2 separate regions of the Homo sapiens genome follow, and region 1 is linked to region 2. The links come from fine-mapping of genetic effects on gene expression. A gene starts in region 2. The other region holds a variant in brackets. All regions are shown on one strand. Distances are from middle to middle. Region 1 has its middle 29 kb from the start of IL33. Region 2 holds the start of IL33 (interleukin 33).

Evidence for each region. PIP is the estimated chance that this variant, and not a neighbour inherited with it, causes the effect. A credible set is the group of variants that fine-mapping cannot tell apart.
Region 1: its variant is the best candidate, but not a certain one, in a credible set for the expression of IL33 in nasal epithelium (TOPMed, PIP 0.80).

What each region holds. Positions count from the first base shown.
Region 1 is chr9:6,179,089-6,195,217 of GRCh38, reverse strand. No RefSeq gene overlaps it. Among named protein-coding and RNA genes, the nearest start is that of IL33, 29 kb to the left of the region's middle. RefSeq lists enhancers at 10,093-10,192, 11,667-12,251, 12,252-12,836. The variant G/T (reference allele first, on the strand shown) is at 8,086.
Region 2 is chr9:6,207,212-6,223,340 of GRCh38, reverse strand. IL33 (interleukin 33) reads right to left here and starts at 7,534. Exons shown (of 8, transcript NM_033439.4): 1 at 7,489-7,534.

The DNA.
Region 1 (16,129 bases), 28 kb after region 2:
TCCTGTCCAAAAACCAAAGACAGCAAGAAGAACCCACTTTGACCCCCTGTGATTTCATCTCCAACCCAACTTCTCAGCACTCCTCATTCTCTGGCCCCCTACCGGCCAAATTGCCCTTAAAAAACTCCAATCTCTGAATTTTCTGTCTTCTGTTTAGCTGGCTGTGCATGAATTAAACTCTTTGTCTATTACAATTCCTCTGTCTTAATAAATTGAGTTTATCTGGGCAGCAGGCAAAATGAACCCACTGGGCAGTTACAGTGTGACTTGAGCAATATACCTACTCAAATGTATCTACTGTAAATACTTTGAGTCTCTAGCTCTTGGTTTATTTTCAGCTAATTCCACAGAAGCTGGGATTGTTGAAAGACCTATCTTTATTTAGTGAAAAACAATAGAAACCAAATACCCTGGATCGAGTCAGGATAGAAAAATCTAAAGCTTAGCCCTTATATCCTGTATCAGGTATCTACTAATTCTCTCCTCCTCCAATTTTGTCTTGGCTTACAGCTATTGTTAGGTAATCTGACCCTATGTAAGCGCTCAAAGATGAAGTTGTATAAGTGGCAAAATGCAGAGACTTACAGGTGTGCCCTCTTGAAAGACATTTTAGTAAATACATGTGTGGTTTCTGGCTCCTATTGTTATTGAGGCCAGGCATTCCTGCTCCCATTGGTACTGCCATGAAGTACAATGTTTGGTTTCCATTTCATCTATAAGCTATAAACTCCATGGTGAACCTCATTATACTCAAACTTGTATTTCCGTGCCTAAGGTGGGCCCTGGCACATAGGAAGGTTTATTTCCTTTTAGACTAGAAGAATTTATTTCAGTTTTGTTGTTTGTTTGTTTGTTTGGTTTCACCACCGATATGGTGGTTATAAATTCTCTTATTTTTCTTTCCCTGATACTCTTATTTCACCTTCAATAATGAAAGACATTTTTGCTGAATGCAGAATTCCAAGTGGACAAGCTTTTCCCTTGTACTTTATTTATTTATTTATTTTTTTAGTTTGATTATGCTTTTTAATATTTTTTCTAGGTTATTTAATTTATTGGTGTACATTTTTTCTTTTCTTTTTTTTCATTATTTATACTTTAAGTTTTAGGGTACATGTGCACAATGTGCAGGTTAGTTACATATGTATACATGTGCCATGCTGGTGCGCTGCACCCACTAACTCGTCATCTAGCATTAGGTATATCTCCCAATGCTATCCCTCCCCCCCACCACCCCACAACAGTCCCCAGAGTGTGATGTTCCCCTTCCTGTGTCCATGTGTTCTCATTGTTCAATTCCCACCTATGAGTGAGAATATGCGGTGTTTGGTTTTTTTGTTCTTGCGATAGTTTACTGAGAATGATGATTTCCAATTTCATCCATGTCCCTACAAAGGACATGAACTCTGTTTCACTGTCTTGTGACTCCCCTTCTATTGCTTCTTATGAGAAAGCAGCCATCATTTTAATTGTTTCCCTGTATTCAATGTGTCATTTTTCTTTGTCTTCAAATATTTTTCTTCCATAGTTTGATTATGATGTAAATAGGAGTGTTTTTTCTACTAATTCTGTCTAAGCTTCATAAATTTGTAACTATATGTTTTATGCCACGTTTAGGGAATTTGGGCCATGATTTTCCTCTCAATTCTCTCTCTCGTCTTCTTTCAGGTCTTCAGTTTTGAATTGTCTCACAGATCCATAGGCTCTGTTAATTAAAATTTATTTCTCTGCCTTCTTCAAATCAGATAATTTCTATTGACTTGTAAGTCCATTGTTTCTTTCCTCCATCATTCCATTTGGTTCTTAAGCTTACCCAGTTAATTTTATATTTCAGCTGTTTTGTTTTTCAGTTCTAGAATTTCTATTTGGGCTTTAAAAAAATAATCTCTTTTCTTCTGCTGAAATTTCCCACTTTTTATTAGCTGTGAGCATATTTTCCTTTTTACTACTGAGCATCATTTTAATATACAGTTTTAAATAATTGTTGGCCAACATCTGGGTCATCCTAGCTTGTTTTCTATTAATCTTTCTCCTATGAATTGGTCATGTTTTCCTGCTTCTTTGAATGTTGTATAATTTTTTTTTTGAGATGGAGTCTCGCTGTGTTGCCCAGGCTGGAGTGCAATAATGCAATCTCAGCTCACTGCAACCTCCGCCTCCCAGGTTCAAATGATTCTCCCGCCTCAGCCTCCTGAATAGCTGGGATTACAGGAACCCACCATCATGCCCAGCTAATTTTTGTATTTTTGTAGAGATGAGGTTTCACTGTGTTGGGCAGGTTGGTCTTGAAGTCCTGACCTCAGGTGATCTGCCTGCCTTAGCCCTCTAAAGTGCTGGGATTACAGGTGTGAGGCACTGCATCCGGCCTGAATGTTGCATAATTTTGGATTGCATCCTCAATATTGTGAATGATGTGTTGTAAAAATTCCGGAATCTGAATGTTCCTCTGAATAGTACTGATTTTAAGCATATATTTAACTTTTATAGAATGAAACTGTAACACTGTATTTCCACTGTGATGAGTGTAGCTGAAATTTTACTTCAATTCCTTTAACTTTAACTAATTTGCTTTGAGTCTTTCCCCAATAGTCATGTTCAAGGATCACTCAGAGATTTGGGAAAATTTTGTACCTAGAATATGAGACCCATTGTTTGGCTCTCTCCTTTCTGGGAGTTTCTTCTTCACTTTCCAGTGGATCTAGTTCCCCAAACACAAGTCCTTTTCTCTGATTCTTAAGCCAGTAAAACTAGGATTTTCTATAAGAGTTTTAGCCACCCCACATGGTGAAAACACACATACGCAAAATGGGAGTTGATGTCTGTTCTTTTCTGCCCAGCATTGACTTCCCTCAGTATCTATCTGTTTTTATTCTCTATTTGGTACCTTCAGTTGTTGGTTTTGGAGGAAGAAAAACATGGGTAAACTTGAAGAGAGACTGAGAGAGATTAAGCTATCTCAAGAACAGAGAGAAAAATAATGGGAAAAAAGTGTCAGAGCACCATTAACCGTGCAGACATAAGTGTAATTGGTGTACTATAAGGAGAGGAGACAGAAAATAGAGCAGAAAGTATTCAAAGAATTCATGGTCGAAGAGTCCCCAGATTTCATACAAATTATTACTCTACATATCTAAGAAACTCAATGAATTCTAAGTGAGATAGATGCAAAGAAATCCACACACAACACATTACTGTAAAAATGTTCAAAGCCAAAGCCAAAGCAAAAATATTGAAAGCGTAAGAGAAAAAGGACTGATCATGTATAGTGGAATGCCAATGATGCTTACAGCTGAATTCTCATCAGAACCAATGGATGCCAGAAGGCAAGAAGGTAACATTTTGAAGGTACTGAAAGACAAAAAGTTGTCAATCAACAAGTTTATGTCCAGCAAAACTATCTTTCAAAAAAAGGCAATTTCTCAAAGAAAATATGCAAATAGCCAACAATAAATGAAAAGAGTCAATATCATTATCTATCAGGAAATGCAAATCAAAACCACAGTGAGATATCACTTCATACATGATAGGATGGTTAAAATATAAAAGAGACATAATAACAAGTATTGAAAAAGATGTGGAGAGTTGGAACCTTCAGATCTTGCTGGTAGGGATGTGAAATGGTGCAGCCACTTTGGAAAATAATCTGGAAGTTCCTCAAAAGATTAAACGTAGAGTTCTTATATGACCCAGTTATTCACTCCTCAGTATACGCTCTACACAATGGAATATTATTCGACAGTATAAAGCAATGAAGTACTGGTACATACTGCAACATGAAGGAGCCTGTAATACATTATGTTAAGTGAAAGAAGCAAGGTACGAAAGACTACGTATCAGTGAGTTTTTTGTGTGAGTCCATTTATATGCAAGGTCCAGAATAGGCAAATCCAAAGAGATAGAAAGTAGATTAGTGGTTGCCAGGGTCTGGGGTGGGAAGAAGGGAGAGAAAGGGAGGAACTGCTAATGGGTATGGGGTTTCATCTGAGGTCATGAAAATATTCCAATATTCTGGCTGAAGTTACACAACTGTGAATATAGTATAAACACCATCGATCTGTTCACTTTTAAGTGGGTGAATTGTGTGTATGTGAATTATTAATTATTTCAATAAATCTGTTTTTTTTTTAACTAGTCGTTAAAAGCAACCACAACAGCCACCCACACAGCTGATTTCTTAAGTTAAATGCTGGTGTGATGTCTCCTCTTCATTCTCCTTGGCCTAGCCTAGGTCTTGTGAGAATGACCTCTCTGTATCATTTGTCATCACATTCAGTGGCAACAGCAGGAGCTAAATTTATTTTTTGGTTATCTTTTCATCCCTCAAATTGTCACACCTATTTTTCAAGTTCCCCAAAAATGGTAATTCTATGATAATCCTTAGTAACCATTAGCATAAAATTAAAACATTTACCTTAGGTTCTTCTACTATGCCTGCTAGAAATTTAGACTATTTATTACAGCTCTCTTTTCAAGCAAGAACAAAATCTGCCTTTTGGACCCATGTAAGGCACTATATTTTAATACCTTTGAATGCTACTATTATTTTGGGGAAACTGGAAAGGACATCGGACTGGATATCAAGAGACCTGCTTTCTAGGCCAATCTTTGTCCCTTGCTAGGACAGAGGAGAGCCATCATTCTTCATTTTATGTACATTTTTCAAAAGTAGGGAATTTTTGATAATTTGTAGTTATGACAGTTAATATTATGATGAAATATATTGAAGGAGATATGTAAAATCAAGTGTCCATTTACTCAATACTAGATTGTAACATCCGTGGCTGCACTCAAAGGGTGGCATATTTTTATGTGGGAGCTCTCCACTAGTCAATGGCACAGACCCACCACTGACCTGGCTCCATTGTCCAGTCCCACTCTTAGAGGAGAAAGGCTCTGGCCAAGACTGTTCCAGAAGGATAATACCTTTTTTTTGGTCTCTTTCCCAGATATAAGAAACCTGGTGACATTTCTGCCTCCAAATTTTTGTGTAATTTAAGAACAGTTTCCTCCTCTGAGCTTAGGTTCTCTGATCTAAAATATGAGAGGTGAGAGTCTTTAAAGCATCATCCACTACTAGTATCTTATAATTCTATTTCAGCATAAACATCTTTAATTCCCAATCTTTTCTCATGAAGACACCATCATGACCTCTTATTCTTATTTATATCTTTTGGACTCCAAATACTTCATTTTAGAGATCTAGTGCTCTGAAGGGTCAAAGGGGCACCTTGTGAAAAGCCATATTTGTCTCTTTACATTCACCATGACTTATACTAAATTATAATAAGTGTGAAATGTCTCCACGGACAGATACAAAATAATTTTGTATCTTCTGGCCAGGGTCCGGTGGCTCAATGCCTGTAATCCCAGCACTATGAGAGGGCAAGGCAGGCAGACTGCTTGAGCTCAGGAGTTTTAAGACAAGCCTGGGCAACATGGTGAAATGCTGTCTGTATCAAAAATACAAAAAACAAAAAACAAAAAATTAGCTGGGTGTGGTGACGTGCCTGTAGTCCCAGCTACTTGGAAGGCTGAGATGGGAGGATCACTTGAGTCTGGGAGGTGGAGGTTGCAGTGAGCCTAGGTTGTGCCACTGCACTCCAGCCTGGGTGACAGAGTAAGACCCTGTCTCAAATAATAATAATAATAATAATCTGTTCCATCTTCCAAGTGAATTATGAAGGTATCCACAATAAGACCAGCAGCCAGGGTTTCTCTCTTCCAAAGAGTGTGTACGAACATAATTTTTCTGAGTATAGACCTATGTTTGTGATTTGAATTAGGCTGTCACTAAGTAAGGGTTTAAAATTTGTTGTGCATCATGTTTCTCTTCTGAGAAGTGTCCTTTCTAGAAATCCCATTTAACACTCCCTGTCAGCAACTACTTCATTTTTCCTCCATATCTGACTTCCTCATGTAATCCATTTCTATTGTACCCTAGTTCCTGATAGAAGCTTGACTGAGTCAAACATCTCTGGAATGTGTCTGTGTTCATGCACCTAAGCCATAACCAAGCAAGTGCTGGGTGAAAGAGATGTAGGAAACCAAAATTTGTTGAACGCCTTTGTGCCAGGTACTTTTTACATACATTATATCATTACATATAAAACGTTACGTCATAATTTATGTAACATTCCTATGAGGGATTCTATCATCCCTATTTTACAGATAAGGAAAACTGAGGTTTGGTTAAGTTATTTGCCTAAGATAACACTGCTAATAGGTGGGGGAGCCTGGTTTAAACACAAGTCTGTTCAATTGTACTGCATCTTACTGATTGTACTCATGTGTTAACATTCCCACCAAAAGTGTAATAGTAAATCACTCTCAGTTATTAATTGGTGTTCAATTAGAAAGGCAGAATTTCTCTAGGCATTCAAACAGAGAGAATAAAATCCAAGGAGGGGCAAAAAGGGCCAGTGATGGTACCCAGAATTCAAAAGAGCTATGTTGCTGAGGTTGCCAGCATCCTTTTGTTAATGCTGCTGCTGCTGCTATTGAAACCACTGCTGCTGTTACCTTTCAAGAGGCTGAGAATTTGCACATTTACAGAAGCTGCAAGAACTTGGGAGCCCATAGTCCCCTTGATGTTACTGGACTCACTGCCAAGACGTCTGGATCCTGTGGCTGCCTGTGGCTACTGCCAGATCCAGAAACAGAAAATGGAGGATAAAATAGCTTCTCCCTTTTGCCTTCTGGTCTTTCTCTGAGACCTGCCTTTGGGAAAATCTAACTGGAAACTACCTAGTTAGGAAACTTGGGAATCTAGTTTGTAAATTTTTAGCACCTTACAATATAGAGAATATTGAAGGGCAGGAATTAAGCTAAAAGTCAGCTTTCCCAGGGAGTTGTTATTTGTTTTGTTATTTAGTTATTTGTTTTGTTATGTTTTGTGACAAAGTCTCACTCTGTCACCCAGGCTGGAGTGCAGTGGTGCAATCATGGCTCACTGCAGCCCCGACCTCCTGGCCTCAAGTTATCCTCTGGCTTCAGCCTCCCGAGTAGCTGGCACTACAGGTGTGTGCCACCAAGCATGACTAATTTTTAGAATTTTTTTTTTGTAGAGACAGAGTCCCACTATGTTTCTCAGCCTCGTCTTGAACTTCAGGGGATGATGAGCATCCCCTCTTTTCATATAAACTGTGTTGTGAGTCAGTGTCCCCGGGATGAGTGCTGCAAAGCTCAGAGGAATTCATACTAACCATTTTTCATTTTTAAATATCTACTGAAGATTCAACATTCAAAGGAAGAAAATGAATTGGTAACCTTGGGAAGGCCTGCACCTTCACTAGGAGAGGTAATTTTGGCAAAGTAAAATAGGGATCTGTCACCCAAAGATATGGAAATTGTTCCTGAGCAGAAAACACACAAACAAAACCAGCTACCCCTGCAGTCCCTGTTACCAGGTACTGTTCTCTACTTTCCTCCCTCCACCCTATAGAATATAGCCTATTCTATATTCCTCTGGGATAATGGCTTCCATTCTTCCTTCCTGGGAATTGCAGCCTAACTCTTGTCGCTAGTCTGGTGGCCTGGAGCTTGGTGACCCACCCTGGACAGTCCTTCTGAGCCTCAGACCTGGTATCTATATATTTATTGAATTATCTAGTTACTTTAGCTTGCAACTTTTGAGAGTAATTATTAAGAGCAGGTTTTGCTCAAATGTAAACAGAAGTTTTAATGAACTTTCAACTCTCTTCTTCAATCAGATAAATATTTCTTGGCATCCTCTGCACCCTGGACAGCTCCCCAAGTGACCTTCTGTTACTCACAATCTCTTCTAATTTCCATGAAAAGTGAATTAAAGCCATGACATTATCTTCCCATTTGGTCTATATCTTTCTTTACCTTCTTTCTTCCTCCCAAAGTCTGGCCCACTTCATAATAAATATCACTGTGGCTACCACTTATTGAGCACTTACTATGTTGAGCACCTACTATGTGCCTGGGGCTTTATACACAATGTTTTGTTTAATCCAGATCAGAACCCCAAAGAAGTTCTCATTACAAAGACAGAAGAATTAAGGCTCACATATCTAGTTAGTGATGAAGTTCATATTTGAGCCCAAGTCAGCCTGATTCCAA[G/T]ACCTGCATTCTTTTCATAGAAGTATGGGATATGTATTACCTCCAATATGGGTACAGGAGATGCAAGAGAGGTCAGAGTCTACTTGGACTTCTTTCCAGGTCTTTGTTTCAAAAGAACACTTTAGACAAAACAGGATGTAAAAATATAAACAGAATGAGAAAAGCAGGAAATCCCCATCTTTATGATAGCTTTACTCTCAGCCTTTCAGGATGAACTTACTGATATGAATTGGCTGTGTCTCCACCCAAATTTCATCTTGAGTTGTAGTTCTCATAATCCCCACTTGTCATTAGAGGGACCCAGTGGGAGGTAATTGAATCGTGGGGGCAGGTTTTTCCCATGCTGTTTTTATGATAGTGAATAAGTCTCACAAGATCTGATGATTTTATAAAGGGCAGTTCCCCTGCACACGCTCTCTTGCCTGCTGCCATGCAAGATATGCCTTTGCTCCTCCTTCGCCTTCCACCGTGGTTGTGAGGCCACCCCAGCCATGTTGAACTGTGATTCCATTAAACCTCTTTTTCTTTTTCTTATTCCTCCCCCTTCCCCTTCCCCTTCCCCTTCACCTTCTCCCTCCCTCCCTTCCTTCCTTCCCTTTTTGTTTTTGTTTTGTTTTGTTTTGTTTTTTTGGGGATGGAGTCTCGCCCTGCCACCCAGGCTGGAGTACAGTGGCGCCATCTCGGCTCACTGCAACCTCCACCTCCCAGGTTCAAGCAATTTCCCTGCTTCAGCCTCCCAAGTAGCTGGGATTACAGGTGTAAGCCACCGTGCCTGGCTCCTAAACCTCTTTTCTTTATAAATCACCCAGTCTTGGGCAGTATGAAAATGGACTAATACACTTACATATAGCGATCCCCATATTTCTGGAGACTATGGAATTTAGCCTCTGCTTTGTTTTAGCTTGCTAATAGAAAATTAAAATGTTAAAGTTTCAAAAAAATTATTCTACAACTTCACTCAGAGGCATGACTTGGTTTGGTTTGGTTTAAAGGTGGTATCCTTTGCTGTTTAGGAGAAATAATATGTGAACTAAAAGAATCCTTTACAGTAAATATATAAAACTCATTATTTAAAGAAATATAGCACCTGCAAGTATGATAACAGCTGCCTTCATTTAGACATAGCTTTGTCTTTAGCCAGGAACCTTAATTAACTCAGGATTCTTAACACAATCCTGAGAAATACAGAGTTAGAAAGGAAGGTTGTGCACATTTACTGAGTATCTATAATGTTCCAAGCTCTGTCATTATAACCTGCTGTCTCTATTTTATTTAGTAAGTTTAAGAAAGGTTTTGAGAGGGTCATAGAAAAACATATCATTGGAGAATTATCTAGAGAACCAAAAGAGGACAAGTCTAAAAAGAGACCATGGTGAGCCTCAGTTTCAGGCCATCTTTTCTTCTCATTCTATGTATTCTCCCAGCTTCATTTTATTCATGCCAATATCTATACTTACCATTTATTAATGAATGATTCTCAAATCTACATAACAATTCAGACCTCTCCGCTAAATTCCTTTTTACATATCCAGCTGTTTTCTGAATATCTGCCTTGGATGACCCACAGGCTTCTCTGAAGTGTCATGCCCCAGATGAAAGTATTTTCCTGCCACTCAGCTCCTGTTCCTTGTTTCATGGTCCAGTGAATGGCACCACCATCCACTCTATTGCCCAAATCACCTATGCAGTTTCCTTGGCTTTTTATTTTCCCTCACTGTTCTCTATCCTACCCCATCCCCCAATCTAATAAATGGCCAAATCCTGTCAACTCTATCGTCCAAATATCTCTGGAATCTACATGCTTCTTTCCATCAGCCACTCAGCTAAGCTTTCAGGCGTTAGAGTAGCTGATTAAAAATAGCCAAAATGAAAGTAACAGTCAAACCTTGACTCCCCTTTGTTTCATTTCCCCCAGTGGAACAGTGTGTTGGTGGAGTCAACTCACTGTTTAGGGATCTCCAACCAAAAGGCACCTGCAGTTTTATGGACCCTGGAGCCAGAAGTGAGGAAGAATGGGAGGGCTGCAAGTAGAAAATATCGAGTACTGAGTCAGAGTGGGTAAAGTGTCTTCAAGCTTCCCTGAAAAGAAGAAGACTTCCAAATGGAGGTGCCTGGGCCATGAATGCAGATATGTATAAGAGCATAGCTGGCCAGGAGGCCTGAATCTTTGACTGCAACTCTCCTCAGACACTGCAATGCATTGGCTCTGTACCAAGTCTGGTGTGGGAAGGGCAGCTTTTCCTATGAGGCCTTCCAGGCAAAGCCTTTGCAATTGCCTGTGGCTGGGCCTGAAATATCACACATACGGTTTTGGCCAGGAGTTAAACTCCTCACTCCTGAACCCCAGTTCTGCTACCTGAGCCCAGGCCACCATCCTCTCTTACCTCCAGAATTACAGCAGCCTCCTTAATGGTCTCCTTGGAGCCGGTCTTTGCCATCTTCCAATCTGTTTTCCATAAAGCAGCCAGAGGGATTGTTATAAAACACAAATCTGACCTAATCATGCCTGTATCAGTCAGGGTCCCAAAAGGAAATAGACTTTAATTCAGATGGTTCAAATGAAAAGCTTTGATGAAAGGGCTACTTACAGAGGTGTGGGCAGAATGAAAGAGACTAGAAACAGGGGAAGCCATATTTATCTGTAGGTCTGAAGAGACAAGAAATAGTTACTCAGTGAAAGCTGGAGCCACAAAAGGGCTGCCTGGCAGGACCTGTGTTCAAGGAGGGATACATTTACTATCGGGTGTAGCACTGAAGCAAGGGGACCCAGGGAAAAGGCACCGCATTGGCTGAACCCATCTGGAAGCCAGTAGGCAAGGGAGAGTGGGTGACAGACCCTATGGGGATCTGATTTCCAGGGCAGAGAATGGATCTGGAGGTATGGGAAACAAAAGAACCAGTGCAACTCTTCTACTTAACACCCAGCCATGTCTTCACATTGCATGTAGGGTAAAGTCCAAGCTCCTAAATTTGGCTTCCAAAGCCTTCCTGATCTGGGCTGAGCCTTTCTTCGCAGTTTGTATTACACACTTCATCCTGAGCTCTTGCTCTGTACTTTCGCCATACTCAACTTACTTTCGTTCTCTCCTATCCAGGCCTTTGTAAGGGTTATTCTCTATCCCAGAAATATTTTCTCCAACCAACCTCTCTTTAATCTGTATACATCTTTCTCACTTTTCAGATCTCAATTTAATTGTCACTGTCTGCAGAAATTCTATTGTCACATGGCCCTGACTAAGCATAGTGTTTTCTCATGGATTTCCATATCCTTCTTCCACATCAAAGCCTCCAATAAATTTCCAGTCACTCCCACTGTACTGTAAGCCTTGCAGAGCACAGATTGTATCTATCATGTTCACTGTTGTATCACCAGAGTGTGCCTGGTACTAGGAACTACTTAAGTATATATTAAATGAATGAGAGCTTATTATATTTCATGTACTTGCCATTCATTTTTTTTCATCGATTTCCTTCTATTTCTATGTTATGTTGAGGTTTTATTAGGGGAGATGGATGAATTTTATCAACACCTTTTCAGCAAGTGTTGATATGATTATGTAGTTTATCTTCCTTAATTTGCTGTTGTAATGAGTGATAAGTGATTGATTTTAGATCATACATTTGCATTCCTAAAATATACACAACTTGGTAATATTCATTTTATTAGAGGCTAGATTTTGTTTACTAATAATTTATTTAGAATTTTTGTATCTAGATTCATTTGTAAGAGTTTTACATTTTTATATTCTCCATCTGGCTTTGGAATTAGGATTATGCTGACTTCATAAAATAAATGAAGGAGCTTAAATAGGATTAGAACTATCTGTTATTTAAGAGTTAGAGAGAGCACTGTTACGAAACATCCGGTCCTGGCACCTTGTTTTAATGGTAGATCAAAATTCACCTGAGAGGAGCCAAGATGGCCGAATAGGAACAGCTCCGGTCTCCAGCTCCCAGCGTGAGCAACGCAGAAGACGGGTGATTTCTGCATTTCCATCTGAGGTAGCGGGTTCATCTCACTAGGGAGTGCCAGACAGTGGGCGCAGGTCAGTGGGTGCGCGCACCGTGCGCCAGCGGAAGCAGGGCGAGGCATTGCCTCACTCGGAAGCGCAGAGGATCAGGGAGTTCCCTTTCCTAGTCAGAGAAAGGGGTGACAGACGGCACCTGGAAGATCAGGTCACTCGCACCCGAATACTGACGGGCTTAAAAAACAGCGCACCAGGAGATTGTGTCCCACACCTGGCTCGGAGGGTCCTACGCCCACGGAGTCTCGCTGATTGCTAGCACAGCAGTCTGAGATCAAACTGCAAGGCGGCAACGAGGCTGGGGGAGGGGCGCCCGCCATTGCCCAGGCTTGCTTAGGTAAACAAAGCAGCCAGGAAGCTCGAACTGGGTGGAGCCCACCACAGCTCAAGGAGGCCTGCCTGCCTCTGTAGGCTCCACCTCTGGGGGCAGGGCACAGACAAACAAAAAGACAGCAGTAACCTCTGCAGACTTAAGTGTCCCTGTCTGACAGCTTTGAAGAGAGCAGTGGTTCTCCCAGCACGCAGCTGGAGATCTGAGAACCGGCAGACTGCCTCCTCAAGTGGGTCCCTGACCCCTGACCCCCGAGCAGCCTAACTGGGAGGCACCCCGTAGCAGGGGCAGACTGACACCTCACACGGCAGGGTATTCCAACAGACCTGCAGCTGAGGGTCCTGTCTGTTAGAAGGAAAACTAACAAACAGAAAGGACATCCACACCAAAAACCCATCTGCACATCACCATCATTAAAGACCAAAAGTAGATAAAACCACAAAGATGGGGAAAAAACAGAGCAGAAAAACTGGAAACTGTAAAAAGCAGAGCGCCTCTCCTCCTCCAAAGGAACACAGTTCCTCACCAGCAACGGAACAAACCTGGATGGAGAATGACTTTGACGAGCTGAGAGAAGAAGGCTTCAGATGATCAAATTACTCTGAGCTATGGGACGACATTCAAACCAAAGGCAAAGAAGTTGAAAACTTTGAAAAAAATTTAGAAGAATGTATAACTAGAATAATCAATACAGAGAAGTGCTTAAAGGAGCTGATGGAGCTGAAAACCAAAGCTCGAGAACTACGTGAAGAATGCAGAAGCCTCAGGAGCCGATGCGATCAACTGGAAGAAAGGGTATCAGTGATGGAAGATGAAATGAATGAAATGAAGTGAGAAGGGAAGTTTAGAGAAAAAAGAATCAAAAGAAACGAGCAAAGCCTCCAAGAAATATGGGACTATGTGAAAAGACCAAATCTACGTCTGATTGTTGTACCTGAAAGTGACGGGGAGAATGGAACCAAGTTGGAAAACACTCTGCAGGATATTGTCCAGGAGAACTTGCCCAATCTAGCAAAGCAGGCCAACATTCAGATTCAGGAAATACAGAGAACGCCACAAAGATACTCCTCGAGAAGAGCAACTCCAAGACACATAATTGTCAGATTCACCAAAGTTGAAATGAAGGAAAAAATGTTAAGGGCAGCCAGAGAGAAAGGTCGGGTTACCCTCAAAGGGAAGCCCATCAGACTAACAGCGGATCTCTCGGCAGAAACTCTACAAGCCAGAAGAGAGTGGGGGCCAATATTCAACGTTCTTAAAGAAAAGAATTTTCAACCCAGAATTTCATATCCAGCCAAACTAAGCTTTATAAGTGAAGGAGAAATAAAATACTTTACAGACAAGCAAATGCTGAGAAATTTTGTCACCACCAGGCCTGCCCTAAAAGAGCTCCTGAAGGAAGTGCTAAACATAGAAAGGAACAACCAGTACCAGCCGCTGCAAAATCATGCCAAATTGTAAAGACCATCAAGACTAGGAAGAAACTGCATCAACTAACGAGCAAAATAACCAGCTAACATCATAATGACAGGACCAAATTCACACATAACAATATTAACTTTAAATGTAAATCGACTAAATGCTCCAATTAAAAGACACAGACTGGCAAATTGGATAAAGAGTCAAGACCCATCAGTGTGCTGTATTCAGGAAACCCATCTCATATGCAGAGACACATATAGGCTCAAAATAAAGGGATGGAGGAAAATCTACCAAGCAAATGGAAAACAAAAAAAGGCAGAGGTTGCAATCCTAGTCTCTGATAAAACAGACTTTAAACCAACAAAGATCAAAAGAGACAAAGAAGGCCATTACATAATGGTAAAGGGATCAATTCAACAAGAAGAGCTAACTATCCTAAATATATATGCACCCAATACAGGAGCACCCAGATTCATAAACCAAGTCCTGAGTGACCTACAAAGAGACTTAGACTCCCACACATTAATAATGGGAGACTTTAACACCCCACTGTCAATATTAGACAGATCAACGAGACAGAAAGTCAACAAGGATACACAGGAATTGAACTCAGCTCTGCACCAAGCAGACCTAATAGACATCTACAGAACTCTCCACCCCAAATCAACAGAATATACATTTTTTTCAGCACCACACCACACCTATTCCAAAATTGACCACATACTTGGAAGTAAAGCACTCCTCAGCAAATTTAAAAGAACAAAAATTATAACAAACTATCTCTCAGACCACAGTGCAATCAAACTAGAACTCAGGATTAAGAATCTCACTCAAAACCGCTCAACTACATGGGAACTGAGCAACCTGCTCCTGAATGACTACTGGGTACATAACGAAATGAAGGCAGAAATAAAGATGTTCTTTGAAACCAACGAGAACAAAGACACAACATACCAGAATCTCTGGGACACATTCAAAGCAGTGTGTAGAGGGAAATTTATAGCACTAAATGCCCACAAGAGAAAGCAGGAAAGATCCAAAATTGACACCCTAACATCACAATTAAAAGAACTAGAAAAGCAAGAGCAAACACATTCAAAAGCTAGCAGAAGGCAAGAAATAACTAAAATCAGAGCAGAACTGAAGGAGATAGAGACACAAAAAACCCTTCAAAAAATCCATGAATCCAGGAGCTGGTTTTTTGAAAGGATCAACAAAATTGATAGACCGCTACCAAGACTAATAAAGAAAAAAAGAGAGAAGAATCAAATAGATGCAATAAAAAATGATAAAGGGGATATCACCACCGATCCCACAGAAATACAAACTACCATCAGAGAATACTACAAACACCTCTACGCAAATAAACTAGAAAATCTAGAAGAAATGGATAAATTCCTCGACACGTACACTCTCCCAAGACTAAACCAGGAAGAAGTTGAATCTCTGAATAGACCAATAACAGGAGCTGAAATTGTGGCAATTATCAATAGCTTACCAACCAAAAAGAGTCCAGGACCAGATGGATTCACAGCTGAATTCTACCAGAGTTACAAGGAGGAACTGGTACCATTCCTTCTGAAACTATTCCAATAAATAGAAAAAGAGGGAATCCTCCCTAACTCATTTTATGAGGCCAGCATCATCCTGATACCAAAGCCGGACAGAGACACAACCAAAAAAGAGAATTTTAGACCAATATCCTTGATGAACATTGATGCAAAAATCCTCAATAAAATACTGGCAAACCGAATCCAGCAGCACATCAAAAAGCTTATCCACCATGATCAAGTGGGCTTCATCCCTGGGATGCAAGGCTGGTTCAATATATGCAAATCAATAAATGTAATCCAGCATATAAACAGAACCAAAGACAAAAACCACATGATTATCTCAATAGATGCAGAAAAGGCCTTTGACAAAATTCAACAACCCTTCATGCTAAAAACTCTCAATAAATTAGGTATTGATGGGATGTATTTCAAAATAATAAGAGCTATCTATGACAAACCCACAGCCAATATCATACTGAATGGGCAAAAACTGGAAGCATTCCCTTTGAAAACTGGCACAAGACAGGGATGCCCTCTCTCGCCACTCCTATTCAAAATAGTGTTGGAAGTTCTGGCCAGGGCAATGAGGCAGGAGAAGGAAATAAAGGGTATCCAATTAAGAAAAGAGGAAGTCAAATTGTCCCTGTTTGTAGATGACATGATTGTATATCTAGAAAACCCCATTGTCTTAGCCCAAAATCTCCTTAAGCTGA
Region 2 (16,129 bases):
ATTCTATTTTTGCAAAACAGTAAAACATCAGTTACGTTCATTTACAAAAAATTTTTGTGTTTATAAATTTGTCTATAAAATGATTATGAATATCATATACATGTAAATCATGCCTTAAGTCATTGTGGGACAAATAGTGACAAAATGAAATGAATTGCCAAGACTTTGAAAATCAAACTTCATAAAATTCTAAAGTAAAGGAAGGAAAAATAAACACAAATTCTTGGTTGTTACCTCTGGGGGAAACCAAAGGAGATGCAATTAGGTAGTGACACAGAGGAGCCTTCAAAGGTATAAGGAATATTCTATTTTTTAAACTGGATGATAAATACACAGGTATTTGTTTTATTATTTTTCTCCAGAACTTACACTTACATATGCGTTCCACATATTAGTTTATGTGTATGATATATTTCTGAATTAAAAAGCTTGAAAGAAAGAAAATCAATCTTCAGTTAACATTCTACTCATAAAGTCAACTGTTCCCTATTCTCCAGGAACAAATGTAGCTACCAAGTAAAAAAAAAATCAGTTAATACAACATCAACACTTTCAAAATTAAAAAGAAATTGCTGCCTGAAAGCAGGAATGCATTATTTAAAATTCTGTGGTTATATTTTAAAAGAACAAGTTGGCTAGTATAAAGGGGATTCCATGTGCTAAATTGTGACAATTTGACTAAAACAAAAAATATGTGAAAGTTTTTCCTTGTGCCAAGACTAAAGTTACAGAAAGCATAACTTTTGCAGGCTTTTTTTCTCATGTTTGAGATATGCTTATTGAATAGCGACAGAAATAACTGATATTATAGAACAGGTTATGAAAAGTTTTGTAAAGCATGTAATATATTCCACAACACTTTCACTGCCACACCATTCAACTTAGCTGGCATAGTCAAAAGCCAAAATGAGAGTCCCTCTCAATGCTGGTATTTAGCTGGTATGCTGCAAGGCTGGTTCCTTTCTTATTTCTCTTTGCTAATGCCATGCCAGCTATTAAATATTTTGAATATCACCTGGGTAGAAAGCATGAGATTTTATTGTACAACCAAATGGCTGCCTGCTAACACACAACATTGTTAGATGAAATTAAATTTGATTATTACAAGCCATTTAAAACTGAAGAGTACAGAGGCTTTCTTCTCATAGATATGAAACTTCCTGGTCATTTATCTGAATAAAATAAGCCACAATCTGCACCCTGGATATTTCATTTCCATAAAGTTTTAACAGAACTGCCTTGTGCGGTGATCTAAAAATGCAACTCAAAGGTCTGGAAGCTTGACCACCATGGTATGACAAGCTTTTCACTTTGCCTCCTTTGTGGGCTACTCCAGCTATTCCCCAAATTGCTGACTTCATTATTTCTCTGTGGAATTCTTAGTTGGCTCAGCCTTACTTACCTGGTAGCTGGGCTTAGTGTGAAAGCTACTAAAATGAAAAGACTCTGTTAAACACCTCTCTTCTCCCCAAAGATAAGGCTAAATTATTTTCCCACTCTGGACAGATATGACTTCTTCTTGAGTGTACCCACTGATGCACAGAGAAATAAATATAATTGGTAGCCTTTCCTTTGCCAAGACACTTTTCATAAAATATGTACAGCGAACTGCCATTCTAGAGGTTACTAGTTGCTGCATGGTTCCACCTAGATAGTAAGGAGAACCAACGGGTCTAAACCCAGATGCTCTTTTACCAGCTTTTGCCATAAATGCCTAGAAAAAAATTGGATGCTGACAAAATAATAGACTTCTAAGTTTTATACTTTTATGAATTAAGAAATATAAAGACTTAAAAATATTTTTTTCTGTCACATCACAGTGCAAATGACCTTAATGCTTCTAAATGTTGAATCTGCTTTCATGGGCCTTATAGCACTGAGCAGAAATTCTTCCACTTGACATAATGGAAAGTAGTAATAATTGGACAGCCAGATGTAAGCATTACCTGTCAGGTCCTAGGCACGGTATCCTCCAAACATTTTTTGTAAAACAGCTTATACTCCTTTGAGTTAATAGCATCTAATTTTTTATATTAAATGACCACCACATACTGACAATTGTGATTAAGTTTCCACAAACCATATGGCTCTTGAATAAGTCAGTGAAGAAAAAATAATGCCACCATACGTGCAGGTAATATGGACCTTTTTTCTTATGGGGGAAAAAACAGGAAGCTGGAGATAGTCACCAAATTACATCAGAATGAATATTGGTACTTATTTCTGTGCCTGAAACTTGTTCAAAAGTTTAGAATGAAATATTACTAAAGGAAACTTAACAATTATGGGTCAGGTACAGTGGCTCACACCTGTAATCCCAGCACTTTGAGAGGCTGAGGCAGGAGGATTACTTAAGCCCAGGAGTTTGAGATCATCCTGGGCAACATAGTGAGACCTCATTTCTACAAAATGTAAAAAAATTAGCCAGGTGAGGCAGCACATGGCTGTGGTCTCAGCTACTTAGGAGGCTGAGGTGGGAGGATAGCCTGAGCCCCGGATGTCAAGGCTGCAGTGAGTTGTGATCGAGCTACTGCTCTCCAGCTTGGGTGACAGACTCTGTCTCAAAAATAAATAATAATAATAATAACAATAACAATAATTTACAAATATGAAGCAGTTATGCTGACTACTGATCAAGTATTGTTAAACAGGATTGCTAAAGAATGTGGACAAATAATATATATGTATAAGAGATAATGGAAAAATAAAATTTAGGGAGGAAAAACTTTGGAACTAATAAATTCAGATTTGAGGAAGTTCATGTTTGGGTCTAATAATTCTCCAAAGAAAAGAACAAGTGGAGAAAAGCATATAGTCCCCTAAAAAGAAATTACAAACAGCTTAAATAGCATTTCTTAAACAATTGCCAGTAATAAGCCAGCAGGCTAAGAAGTTAGAGTGGCTGAGATTTGAGCACAGCAGACACACAAAACTATGAAGTTCTGTTAAACTCTAAGGAAATATTGAATCTTTGCTAGGAACTATGTCGGAAATAATGAGCAAAACATTCTTACCATTGCAAAAGGTCTCAGATGCACTAATATGGCTAGGGAAAATTATGACAATCATTTAATTTATGGAATGTTCAAAGTGGAGGGGAATTAGATGTAAACTGGGTGCTGATTAAAAGTAAAGCGCTCAGCCAAGTTTGTGGGTGAACTTCTTAGTTCTGGAAATAGCAATGGGAATGGCAAAAAAAAGTTACAGAAGAGAACAATGGCTGGCAGGAACTCTTTCCCTAGGGCAAAAGGTGAATGTAGCCCTGAAGGAAATAGACAGAAGGTTTTAATGTCACTTCATCAATATTTTCATATTTGAAAATGATGGAAACTTTGAATAAGAAAATAGCTTCACAAAGAGGATTAGAGATGCACTAAATGAAGTAGTTTGGAATTGTTCTTTAGTTCTTTTTTCTTAATGGGACCTGACCCTGGACTTTAATCTCTGATCTGAAATTTACTGACTTTATGATTTTGGGTTAGTATTAAAATCTTTTCAAATCCCACTGTCTCAATTTCATAAATGGAGATAATATTTACCTCACAGAGGTGCTGTGAGGGATAATGTGGAAGATAAATGTCTCACTTTTAGTAAATGGTCAGTGATTAATAAATTACCTTTGATGACTGCTTCTAACTTGTTTTACCCATCACAACACCTGTCTTGAGTGGGATTTTGTTGCTTGTTTGTTTCACATTTTACACAAGAGAAAAAAATTCAGGCTCAGGAAAGTTAAGTAAGATCCAAAATTACACAGCTGGTCAATGATGGATGATGGACTGGAGGCCTGACTGCCTCTAAAAATTTGTGTCTTTACTATTATGCTATACTGCACTCTTCACTTAAAAAATACAAAACAAAAATAAATACCTTCGTAGGTATACTGTAATCTACCGATAATAACATGAGCAGCATGTGCCAGGAGTCCGCTATAGGGAGGAAGCGCCCCCAATTCCTCACTCCCCCTTACCACTCCCTGCATACTGAACTTTGCCTGAACTTTTTGAGGCCCACTAAGGTTGTGTCCCCTTAAAAGTTACTTTTGCTTGCAGACATCAGCACCAGAGAATCTACAGGAAACCGAAGAGATTAGACGTTCTACCATGATTTCCTGAAGTTCTTGAACCCAACCCAATCATTTTGTTGTTGATAGAATTAAGGTCCCTTTCTTTCTGCTGTTTCAGGAGTTTATATTTGGTCTTAATGTTTCTAAATGTTCCTGCTACAAACTGAGATACAAAGAAGGTGAATTCCAATGAACCTCTTGATTTCCACCATGTTTGCCAAAATTTCAACTTGAATGAAAGATACATTGATTTTGGCACAGTCTGACTGACATCTCCAGAAAAACCCTTATGGTATCAGATTTACTGACATATAAATTTTCTGATGTAGACATATATATATATATATATATATATATATATATATATATATATATGGAGAACATATATATATATGGAGAACATATATATATATGGAGAACATATATATATATGGAGAACATATATATATGGAGAACATATATATATATGGAGAACATATATATATATGGAGAACATATATATATATGGAGAACATATATATATATGGAGAACATATATATATATGGAGAACATATATATATATGGAGAACATATATATATATGGAGAACATATATATATGGGGATATATATATGGGGACATATGTATAGGGAGAAAAAATATATATATAGGGAGAATATATATGTGTATATATATATATGCATATATATATTATCTCAATGCTGACCCTTCTTCAGTATTTCCCTGTAATGATTTAATTCCCTGATGGAGCTTAACTTTTCACAATTGAATTTCATGCCTATTTCCCCGAAGTTAGTTGTAAGCTCTATTTCCTTAATCACTGGGAAACCCTGGCCAAGAGTGACATTTCCTGTTTCTCAATCTCTTCCATTGTTTTCAGTTCTGGCTATTTCAATCCCTAAGTGAAAGTTTGCCTCAGGATTCTTTTCTCTCTATAAATGGGAAAGGGAAAGAGGTGCTTTCTGGCTGTAGATACTGTAAGCTAAACAATGATGTGAAAGAGATAAACATCTAGGTTACTTAAGAAATCAATTATGAAGTAACCAATCAAAGATTGGTAGAAGGTCCAGGATCCTTTCAGAGAAGAATGGAGAAAATGTGAAATATGAGCTGAGGAAAGTGCGATGCTTGTGCTAGAAGTTCTTAACTGTTTCAGACAATACCGAGCTGTGTGATTCAGTTCAATCACCCTAAACTTTGGGAAATAGAGGATTCTGAAGTTTTCTGAACTCAGAGAGGTACATTTTCTGGGTGGAAATCAAAAGAGGAGCATTAAGTATTCAAAAGACAAATTTGAGAAGCAATAAGTAAGACTGTTGGAAACAGTATAGGACCCCAGTGTGGCACAGAAGGATGCTTCAGCGGGAGAAGCACAGTGCAGAGGAGGAAATACGGGTCTTTGCCCTAGACACTTCACTCTCAAGTCTCTGACTTGTATGCAGCCACAGGACATACTTTTGGATTTGTGCTATTTTCTTAATTAAAATAGTCTGGAGGCATATATTCATGTGTGGAAAGAAAAGGCAGAGAAAATTGTGAGGAGGCAGAAAGCAAGGAATAAAGAAAAGAAAACAATCTTCAAAGGAAAGTCTGTAAATGAAGAATAGTAGCAAAACTGATGAGCTTTTGAATTTCTCCACTTAGGGTATCAATTCCTTGTTTTTCCACAAAAGTTTATTTTTGAGGGGGTGGTACCTCTCAATTCTTGTATTTGAAACTGACAGTGAGAAATAACAGTGAGAAAATTATGACAGTGAAGGAGATCTGACATAACCAACCCCCATCATGCTTTTAACTTCCATATTGCCTTTGGTCATTCCTGGGCTTGGGCCAAGCTAACTTTGGGAGAAATTTAGGGTATGGTTTAAATGATAATAACCCTTCACCAAAAGTAAACCACCTTGGTAAAAATAATGAAAGACCACCAAGTTAGGAGTTTGAGAGGGTCCTGAATTCTGCTAAGATGTAGGCATAGTAAAATGATTACTAGCCATGATTCTGGAGGTCACAAGATTTGCAACTTCCCCAGTGACTACTGTAAATAACATCACTATTGTATAAGCTAAGATTGACCTTCAGAGATGTCTGTTCAGGCTTTTGCATTTCTGATGACCAGTGACTACTCTGTGGCTCCCACCCAGAAATAGACTCAGTGCATACACGAGGACCATTTTTCACATGCCTGTGATTTTATTCCCAACCAATCAGCAGCACCTATTCCCCTAAGCCCTTTGCCCATCAAACTAACCTTGAAAAACCCTAGCCTCCAAATTTTTGGGGAGATTTGAATAATAACTTTGAATCCTCTGTGGCATGGCTGGCTGGCCCTGTGTCAATTAAACTCTTCACTGCCATGCCATGGTTTCAGTGAATTGGTTTTGTCTGTGCAGATCAGAGATTAAAGTCCAGGGTCAGGTCCCATTAAGAAAAAAGAACTAAAGAACAATTCCAAACTACTTCATTTAGTGCATCTCTAATCCTCTTTGTGAAGCTATTTTTTATTCAAAGTTTCCATCATTTTTTTTGGAGATGACATTTAGCTCTTGTTACCCAGGCTGGAGTGTAATGGCATGATCTTGCCTCACTGCAACCTCCACCTCCTGGGTTCAAGCGATTCTCCTGCCTTAGCCTCCCGAGTAGCTGGGATTACAGGTGCCCACCACCACACCCAGCTAGTTTTGTTTGTTTGTTTTTGTATTTTTAGTAGAGACAGGGTTTCATCCTCTTGGCCAGGCTGGCTGCAAACTCCTGACCTCAGGCGATTCACCCACCTCGGCCTCCCAAAGTGTTGGGATTACAGGCTTGAACCACCACACTTAGTGATGTCCCCCTTTTACTGAAAACCACTTGTAAACAATTGCAAGCATGTTTGTCTTGAGTAAGCATTAGGAGTTAGAAGTAGAATTATCAACTTGCTTTATAAAGTTTCCAGCCTGGCAACAAAGCAAAGACCCTATCTCTACATAAACTAAAAAAATTACCCAGGCATAGTGGCGTGTGCCTGTAGTTCCAGCTGCTTGGGAAGCTGAGATGGGATGATTGCTTGAGCCCAGGAATTGGAGGCTGCAGTGAGCTAGGATCACGCCACTGTGCTCCAGCCTGCGCTACAGAGCAAGATCCCATCTCTTAAAAAACATAAAATAAAATAAAATAAAGTTTCATGGAGGGGGCAGAATTTACTATAAAAACTATTACAATCTCTTTCAGCAATTTATTAATTTTACAAATCACCCAAAGGAAAGCAAATGGAATTATAAGTTAGTAACAGCTATTGTCATTGACTTTTACTGCTATTAGCAATAATAACAAATTGGCCTTATCATTTATTTTTCAGGAAAAAAAAAAAAACACAGTTCTCCATGGTTCCCAAGGTTTAACTTTGCAAAATCTGACTAAAAATCTCCCAGAATATTCAGTCTTACCTTGTGATCTTGTTTTGATTTCTTCCCTGAAGAGCTGCAGCTCTGTGTTCGGAGGAGTCTGTAGACTCTTTTTATTAGCCAAAGTTTGGCAGAGACCCAAATTGCCTTAGAAGGGAGATCTGGGCGGGTGAGATTTTAGCAGGCTTGAAATCTCATGTAAAGAGCCAACAGAGTTACAATTCTGTCAACATCTAAGGCTCACTACTTTCTGCGTCCTCCCTCCATCTGAATATTTTAAACCAGCAATTATGATTCTTCTTCTGCCCCTAAACTTTATGTTTTGGCTCTCTTTGGAGTTGAACTCCTAAACTTCAACTTCAGCACTGTCCATTTTGAAATTCTGTTGCCATTTATATATTCACTTTTGGCCGTTGGCTTCTTAATTTACAAACTTCATTAAGAGATCAGTGTATTCTTCCAAATTCCTTTATAATAGAAATTTGCGACCCCCTTTGGCCTATCAGTAATAAGCAGCTCGTCTGCAAATAAAAGCTCTGAAATACTCTGTATTCCAACATATCTGACGGGCTTTCCTGCTCCCCACTGTTCATCTTTTCTTTCTATTCATCTCAAAAATCTCGCAGAAGATAATACTTTATCACAAAAGCAAATCCTGTACTATAGATCCCATGAGAAGTTGTTCTTCTTACCTCATGAGAAATTTTGCTCCTACTCACCCTCTCTCCATCTCGTTTGGCATCTGTAGCAGAAAATAAAGGGATGAAGTAATGCTCTTTTAAGACTTGGACTGATTCCACATCCTAAGATCACACATTGGAAGGAAGACTGCTGCTGTACTTAGAAGGATATTGTGATGGACTGTTACCCTAGCAAGCCTCTACATCCATTCAATCTACAAGATTAGAAGGGTGACCTTGAAACAAAGGGGCAGCAGAAAAAAGTTTACTGTAAAATGAAATAGGAATTTTTTAGTTTTTCTCATGGCATGTTGAAGGATAGAATGTTAGGGTTCTGGAATCCAGGGGAAAGAGAAAATGAGACAGCAACAGATGGCTGACCAGGCTTGGGAAAATGTGACTATGATGGAGTCCCCTTTGGAAAAAACAACTAAGGAACTCTGTTATCTTGTTTAAAGTTGTTTCATTTTCTGTGCAGTAATCCCCTTTAATCATCCCCAAACCTGAGCAATCATCTGCTACAAGCCATAGTGTTGCATTTGTGAGTAATGAAGAAAGATGGCTATGTCTGCCCTTTGGATAAAGCAGTGAAGCAAGCGGACAGGATGCCAACATGACAAGAATGAATCAGGAATTGAGCTGTGTGCAATAAATAGGAGGGAGGGGTGACAAGTAACAGCCAAGGGAATATTAGCATACTCTACTCTGGGAATTCTTGCAAATACTGAGGAAATTACAAAGGATGAATAATGTATCTTTATTATGTATATTGAACCCTCCTTCATTATTTCAAAAATTTCTCTTTTTATCTCTAATTATGCTTCATGCCTTAAAGTCTGCTTTGTCCATTTGTCTGCTTTCTCCATTAGCAGAGCTTTGCAAACATTCTTTTGGTTAGTATTCACATAGTGTATCTCTTTTCATCTTTTTTCTTTCAAACTTTCTGTGTCCTTACATTAAAGATGTGTCACATATAAGTAGTATACTGGTTTTTTTTCCCAGTTTGACAATAATTTGTCTTTGAACTGGAACATCTATTGTAATTATTGATATATTTGAATTTGCTTCTACTATCTTACTTTTTTTCTCTGCTATTTTGTCCCCCTGGCTTATGCTCTTTTTTGGATAAAACAATTATTTATTTATTTATTTATTTATTTTGAGATGGAGTCTCGCTCCGTCGCCCAGGCTGGAGTGCAGTGGCGTGATCTCAGCTCACTTCAAGCTCCGCCTCCCAGGTTCACACTATTCTCCTGCCTCAGCCTCCTGAGTAGCTGGGACTACAGGCGCCCGCCACCATGCCCGGCTAATTTTTTGTATTTTGTAGTAGAGACGGGGTTTCACTGTGTTAGCCAGGATGGTCTCGATCTCCTGACCTCGTGATCTGCCCCCCTTGGCCTCCCAAAGTGCTGGGATTACAGGCGTGAGCCACTGTGTCTGGCCTGGATGAAACAATTTCTAAAAATTATTCAATTTTCTCCCAGCAGTCATGAACTATAACTCTTGACTTTTTATGAAACAAGAACAAAACCAAAAAGGCTGCTAAAACCACAGCTCTGCTTTTAAGAGGCTGATTTTTTTTTTTTTTTTTTTTTTTTTTGCCTTTGCCCCCATGCAGCTGCGTAATTCGGCAAGTGTTTTGAAGAGGAAACTCATTATATGTAGGTTCAGTTCTCCAGCCCTCTCTTCTTGCTGGGGGCCTGGCCCTTCCAATTTCCAATTTTGTCTCTTCATTCCCACAACACCGATCAACAGTGATTTCTCTGTCTCCTGGCAGTGACCTCCTACCTTGGTAAAATACAGATTCCCTGCCTTGGCCAATGCTCTCGTAACTATTAAAAAGTAGCTAACTACTGTTAGCTAATCTCTCCATGGAATCTTAGCCCCTCATCCTTCGTGCTTCAGCAGCTCTCTCCTGATCTGCCTTTCTGGTTGTACTCAATGGTAATATTGGACTGCCACAAGTTACTCCATGCTATTCAAGTAGCTAGTTGAATGAAGATGAAAGCATGGCTCTAGAAGGCAGGACGACTAAGGGTTAGGTCATACAGACTTTATTCTAGTAATCGTATAATTTGTTATCTGAATCATAAATTTTTGAGAATGAAAAGAATGTTATTAATCATTTGACCAGAATAATAGGAAAACACTGAGATATGGTTACCCCAGGTTTTGTGACTTTTATAGTTCTTCATCCCTAACCCCACTACTTCCCAAATCCCAAATCTGCCTTATTAACTTCCTCCTTTCAGGGTAGATGCAAGGTATATGGGTGACTGTCTAAAATTTTGCTGACTCATAGACATATACTTGATCTGGTTGCACAATTTTATTCCCAAAGGAAGAAAGTTCAAATTGATGTTTTGCTACCAACAGACCTTAAAAAATGAAAATTTAAAGGGTATACTTCACATGGAGGAAGGTGAACCCAAATGGTAGGCCTGAATATAAGCAGAATTGAAGAATCAAAAGTATGATAGATATTGAGGTAATGCTAAGACATATTAACGGTAAATACTGACAATAATATCTTGTAAGGTTAAGAAAAACAAACTAGAACTAAATACATTACAAAAATAGCCTATATGTCTGGAGAGATGATGATAGGAATGAGAGTTCTCAAGTATATTGTATTGCTCAGGAAGAGGGTAAAAATATTGCTGAATTTTGAGCTCTGTATTCATTTTTAAATTTCTAGAAAAAATTCAGAATAATAGAAATTGGACATATAACTAACTTCCAAATGATTAGAGGAGAAAAACAGAATGAGAAAAAAATAGCAGTCTATCCAGCAGAAATCAAGAAAGAAGAGACAAAAAAGCATAGTAAAGGTAATACCAAGAGAAAAAACAAAGCATGATAGATTTAACACAAATATGTCAATAATCTCATTACATGGACTAAAGGTGCCAGTCGAAGAAGCTAAGATACTTAGACTTGAAAAGAAAAGATCCATGTAATGCTGTTTTAAAGAGACATATACTAAAGATACAAAGAAGTTACTGGTCAGGTGTGATGGTTAATACTGAGTGTCAACTTGATTGGATTGAAGGATGCAAAGTATTAATCCTGGGTGTGTCTGTGTGGGTGTTACCAAAAGGGATGAACATTTGAGTCAGTGGACTGGGGAAGGCAGATCCACCCTTAGTTATGGTAGGCACAATCTAATAAGCTTCCAGCGAATATAAAGCTGGCAGAAAAATGTAAAAAGAGAGACTAGCCTAACCTCCCAGCCTACATCTTTCTCCTGTCCTGGATGCTTCCTGCCCTCGAACATCAGACTCCAAGTTCTTCAGTTTTGAGACCCAGACTGGCTCTCCTGCTCCTCAAGCTTGCAGACAGCCTATTGTGGGAACTTGTGATTCTGTAAGTTAATACCTACTAAACTCCTTTATATATCTATTCTATTAGTTCTGTCTCTCTAGAGAACCCTGACCAATATATCGGGCATGATGGTTCCTTCCTGTAATCCCAGTGTTTTGGGTGCTGGGGTGGGCGGATTGCTTGAGCCCAGGAATTTGAGACCAGCCTGGACAATATAGTCTTTGTCTCTACAAAAGAAAATTAAAAATTAGCTAGGCATGGTGGCACATGCCTGTAGTCCCAGCTACTTGGGAGGCTGAGGCAGGAGGAGTGCTTGAGACCAGGAGTTTAAGGCTACAATGAGCTTTAAACATACCACTGCACTCTAGCCTAGGCATAGACCAAGAGTGAAACACTATCTCAAAAACAAAACAAAACAAAACAAAACAAAACAAAACAGAGGCTACTGAATAATGATAAAATTAAATTCATTGGGAAGAAATAAATCCCCACCCACAAACACCTGTTAACACAGTCTTAACTACATAAAATGAAAATAAAAGTAATTACAGAGAGAGATACAAATATCTATTATCCTAATGGGAAATTTGTTATGTCTTAGCAACGTTGTCAAGCAGGAAAAGCATTAGGAAGAATATAGAAATTTTGGTTGACACAATGAGCTGGGACACATGGATATATAAATAACACAATACAACAGGCAGAGAATACATACTCCCTTCAAGCACACATGGAACATTTGCAAAATTAAACATATTCTTATCTATCAAGTCAGTTGTAGAATTATTTCAATTGATGTCACCAAAAATGGCAGAATAAGGAACTTCAAGGTCTATCTCTCCGCAAAAACAACTAATAAGCTGGCGAAAACTGTCAAAATCAACTTTCACAGAACTCTGCATATAGTCGAAAGCTTATGACAGCCATGGAAAAGTTAATGAAGAAAGAAGAAGTTGATGCATTGCAGAAGAGAGTGCTGTGGCATTTTAAATTGCCTACTTGCTATCCCTCATCTGCCATCCCCCAGATCAATGGCAGTTATCAGGATGGTCGCCCATATTCCAGGTGCATGCTGCTAGTGCCAGAGGGACTAAATGGACCTTTTTCTCAAATAATTGTGATTGTGTGTTTCAGCCTGTCTGGGGGCTCCCTTAAGGACTAGTGTGACGAGTTGCCTTTGTTTCATCTGATTCAAAGTGTTTCCAGGGCTGGCATGGCTTCTCAGGTGGCATTTGCCAAAGGCATTAAAAGGTAAAAGTATTGGCTGCAGCAGCCTGGGGCAAGGGATAACAGTCAGAACAAGCAATAGACATATCAAAAAAGCCAGGGAAGAAAGAGGTTAGAAAAGGAGATACATGAGGGGAATAAGGACTTTGAAAAGTTCCCACATATACTGGGGAATCAAGAAGACAACACTCATTGCTAGGAAGGTAGACATGTTCAGAAAAGTCCTGAGAAGACCCCAGGCTTTCACCTCTGGCTGACTTTCAAGTTCCATGCAAGCAGGAAGTGAAGACCAAAGCAGAGTTGTAAATGGCTTTGCTATGCGTTGAAGGCATGTCCCAACACAGAGCCAATCTGAAAACACTAGGGGAATAATTTTTCTTTTTCTTTCTTCAGCTTCTATTTTTGGCTCTAGTTGTTTAAGGAAATCATTGTCATAACACTAGCTGACCACTAAGCTAATGGAACACCGACTTCAGTGACCACACATAACAAAGAATACAGACTGTAGAAAAATGTTTTAGAAAAGTCACTAAACAGACAGATAACAACAACCCACTACAAGCAACAACAACAAACCATGGGGATGTGGAGAACTGAATTTCCTGAGTTACTGTATTATAATGTGCAAAATGTCCACCTTTCAACACAAAATTATGAGACACTCAAACAATGAAGTATGGACTTTAAAAAGTGACAGTAATCATTCTTGAGAAAGACCAGATATATGACTTATTAGGCAAAGCCTTTAAATCAGCTGTCTTAAATATATTTAAAGAGCTAAAGGAAACCATGAAAATTATGTCTTTGCAAATAGAGAATATCAATAATAGAAATAATAGATATAAATTATAAAAAGGAACCAAATAGAAATTCTGAGGTTGAAAAGTAGAATAACTGAAATAAAAAATTCACTAGAGGGATTCAGTAGCAGATTTGAGCAGTCAGAAGCAAGAACCAGTGATAGGTTAATTGAAATGGTCCAGTCCGAGGAAAAGAAAGCAAAAAGAATGGGAAAAAAATGAGCAGAGTCTAAAAGGCCTGTAGGACATCATCAAGCATGCCAACAGGTGGACAATGAGAGTCCTATAGGGAAAGGAGAGAGAATGGAACAGAGAGAATATTTGGCAAAATGATGGTAAAAATGTCCCAAATTTGATTAGTAACCAAGATTTTAAACATTCGAAATACTCAATGAACTCCAAGCAGGATAACTCAAAAGATTCACACTGAGATACACTATAACCAAACGGTTAAAAGCCAAAGACAAAAAGCAAATCTGGAAAGCAGCAACTGAGATGTTTCTCACTATGTATAAGGGATACTCATGTGTAGGATTACCAGCTAGTTTCTCTTCAGAAGCCATGGAGGCCAGAAGACAGTGGGACAACATATTTAAAAGGCTGAGAGAAAAACATTGTCAACCAAAAATTCTATATCTGGAAAAACTATTCTTTAAAAATGAGAGAGTAAGTAAGACATTAAGAAATTAAGATGTTATCAGATAAAGAAAAACAGGGCAACATAGGGAGTTCATCACTAGTAGACCTGCCCTATAAGAACTGCTGCATAAATCCAGCAACATTCTAAGAAGGTTCTATGTCATAACTAAGTGAGGTTTATACCAAAAATGCAAGAGTGGTTCAACATATAACAACCAATCAATGTAATAAATCACACCCATAGAATGAAGGAAAAAACCCCACCCATATAATTATCTCAATAGATGCAGAAAAAGCTTTTGACAAAATCTGTCACCCTTTAATGATAAAAACCCTCAATGAACTAGAAAAAGAAGGGAACTTTCTCAATTGATAAAGGACATTTATGAAAAATTCACAGTGGCATTATTCTCAATGATGAAAGACTGAAAGCTTTCCTCCTAAGATGAGAAACTAGACAAGAGTGCCCATTTTCTTTTTTTGGTTTGTTTTTTGTTTGTTTGTTTGTTTTTAGCCCAACATTTTATTTTATTAAATTTTTTATATACTTTAAGTTCTGGGGTACATGTGCAGAACGTGCAGTTTTGTTTCATAGGTATACATGTGCCATGGTGGTTTGCTGCACCCATCAACTCATCATCTACTTTAGGTATTTCTCCTAATGCTATCCCTCCCCTAGTCCCTCACCCTCTGACAGGCCCCGGTATGTGATGTTCCCCTCCCTGTGTCCATGTGTTCTCATTGCTCAACTCCCACTTATGAGTGAGAACATGGGGTGTTTGATTTTCTGTGATTTTCTGTTCTTGTGTTAGTTTGCTGAGAATGATGGTTCCTAGCTTCATCCATGTCCCTGCAAAGGATATGAACTCATCCTTTTTTATGGCTGCATAGTATTCCACGGTGTATATGTGCCACATTTTCTTTATCCAGTCTATCATTGATGGACATTTGGGTTGGTTCCAAATCTTTGCTATTGTGAATAGTGCTGCAGTAAACATATGTGTGCATGTGCCTTTATAGCAGAATGATTTATAATCCTTTGGGTATATACCCAATAATGGGATTGCTGGGTCAAATAGTATTTTTAGTTCCAGATCCTTGAGGAATCACCACACTGTCTTCCACCATGGTTGAACTAATTTACACTCCCACCAACAGTGTAAAAGTGTTCCTATTTCTCCACATCCTCTCCAGCATCTGTTGTTTCCTGACATTTTAATGACCACCATTCTAACGGGCATGAGATGGTATCTCATTGTGGTTTTGATTTGCATTTCTCTAATGACCAGTGATGATGAGCATTTTTTCATATGTCTGTGGGCTGCATAGATATCTTCTTTTGAGAAGTATCTGTTCATATCCTTTGCCCGCTTTTTGATGGGGTTGTGCATTTTTTTCTTGTAAATTTAAGTTCTTTGTAGATTCTGGATATTAGCCCTTTGTCAGATGGATAGATTGCAAAAGTGTTCTCCCATTCTGTAGGTTGCCTGTTTACTCTGATGATAGTTTCTTTTGCTGTGCAGAAGCTCTTTAGTTTAATTAGATCCCATTTGTCAATTTTGGCTTTTGTTGCTATTACTTTTGGTGTTTTGGACATGAAGTCTTTGCCCATGCGTATGTCCTCAATGGTATTGCCTAGGTTTTCTTCTAGGATTTTTATGGTTTTAGGTCTTACATTTAAGTCTTTAATCCATCTTGAGTTAATTTTTGTATAAGGTATAAGGAAGGGGTCCAGTTTCAGTTTTCTGCATATGACTAGCCAGTTTTCCCAACACCATTTATTAAATAGGGGATCCTTTCCCCATTTCTTGTTTTTGTCAGGTTTGTCAAAGACCAGATGGTTGTAGATGTGTGGTGTTATTTCTGAGGCCTCTATTCTGTTCCATTGGTCTATATATCTGTTTTGGTACCAGTACCATGCTGTTTTGGTTACTGTAGCCTTGTAGTATAGTTTGAAGCCAGGTAGCGTGTTGCCTAAAGCTTTGTTCTTTTTACTTAGGATTGTTGTGGTTA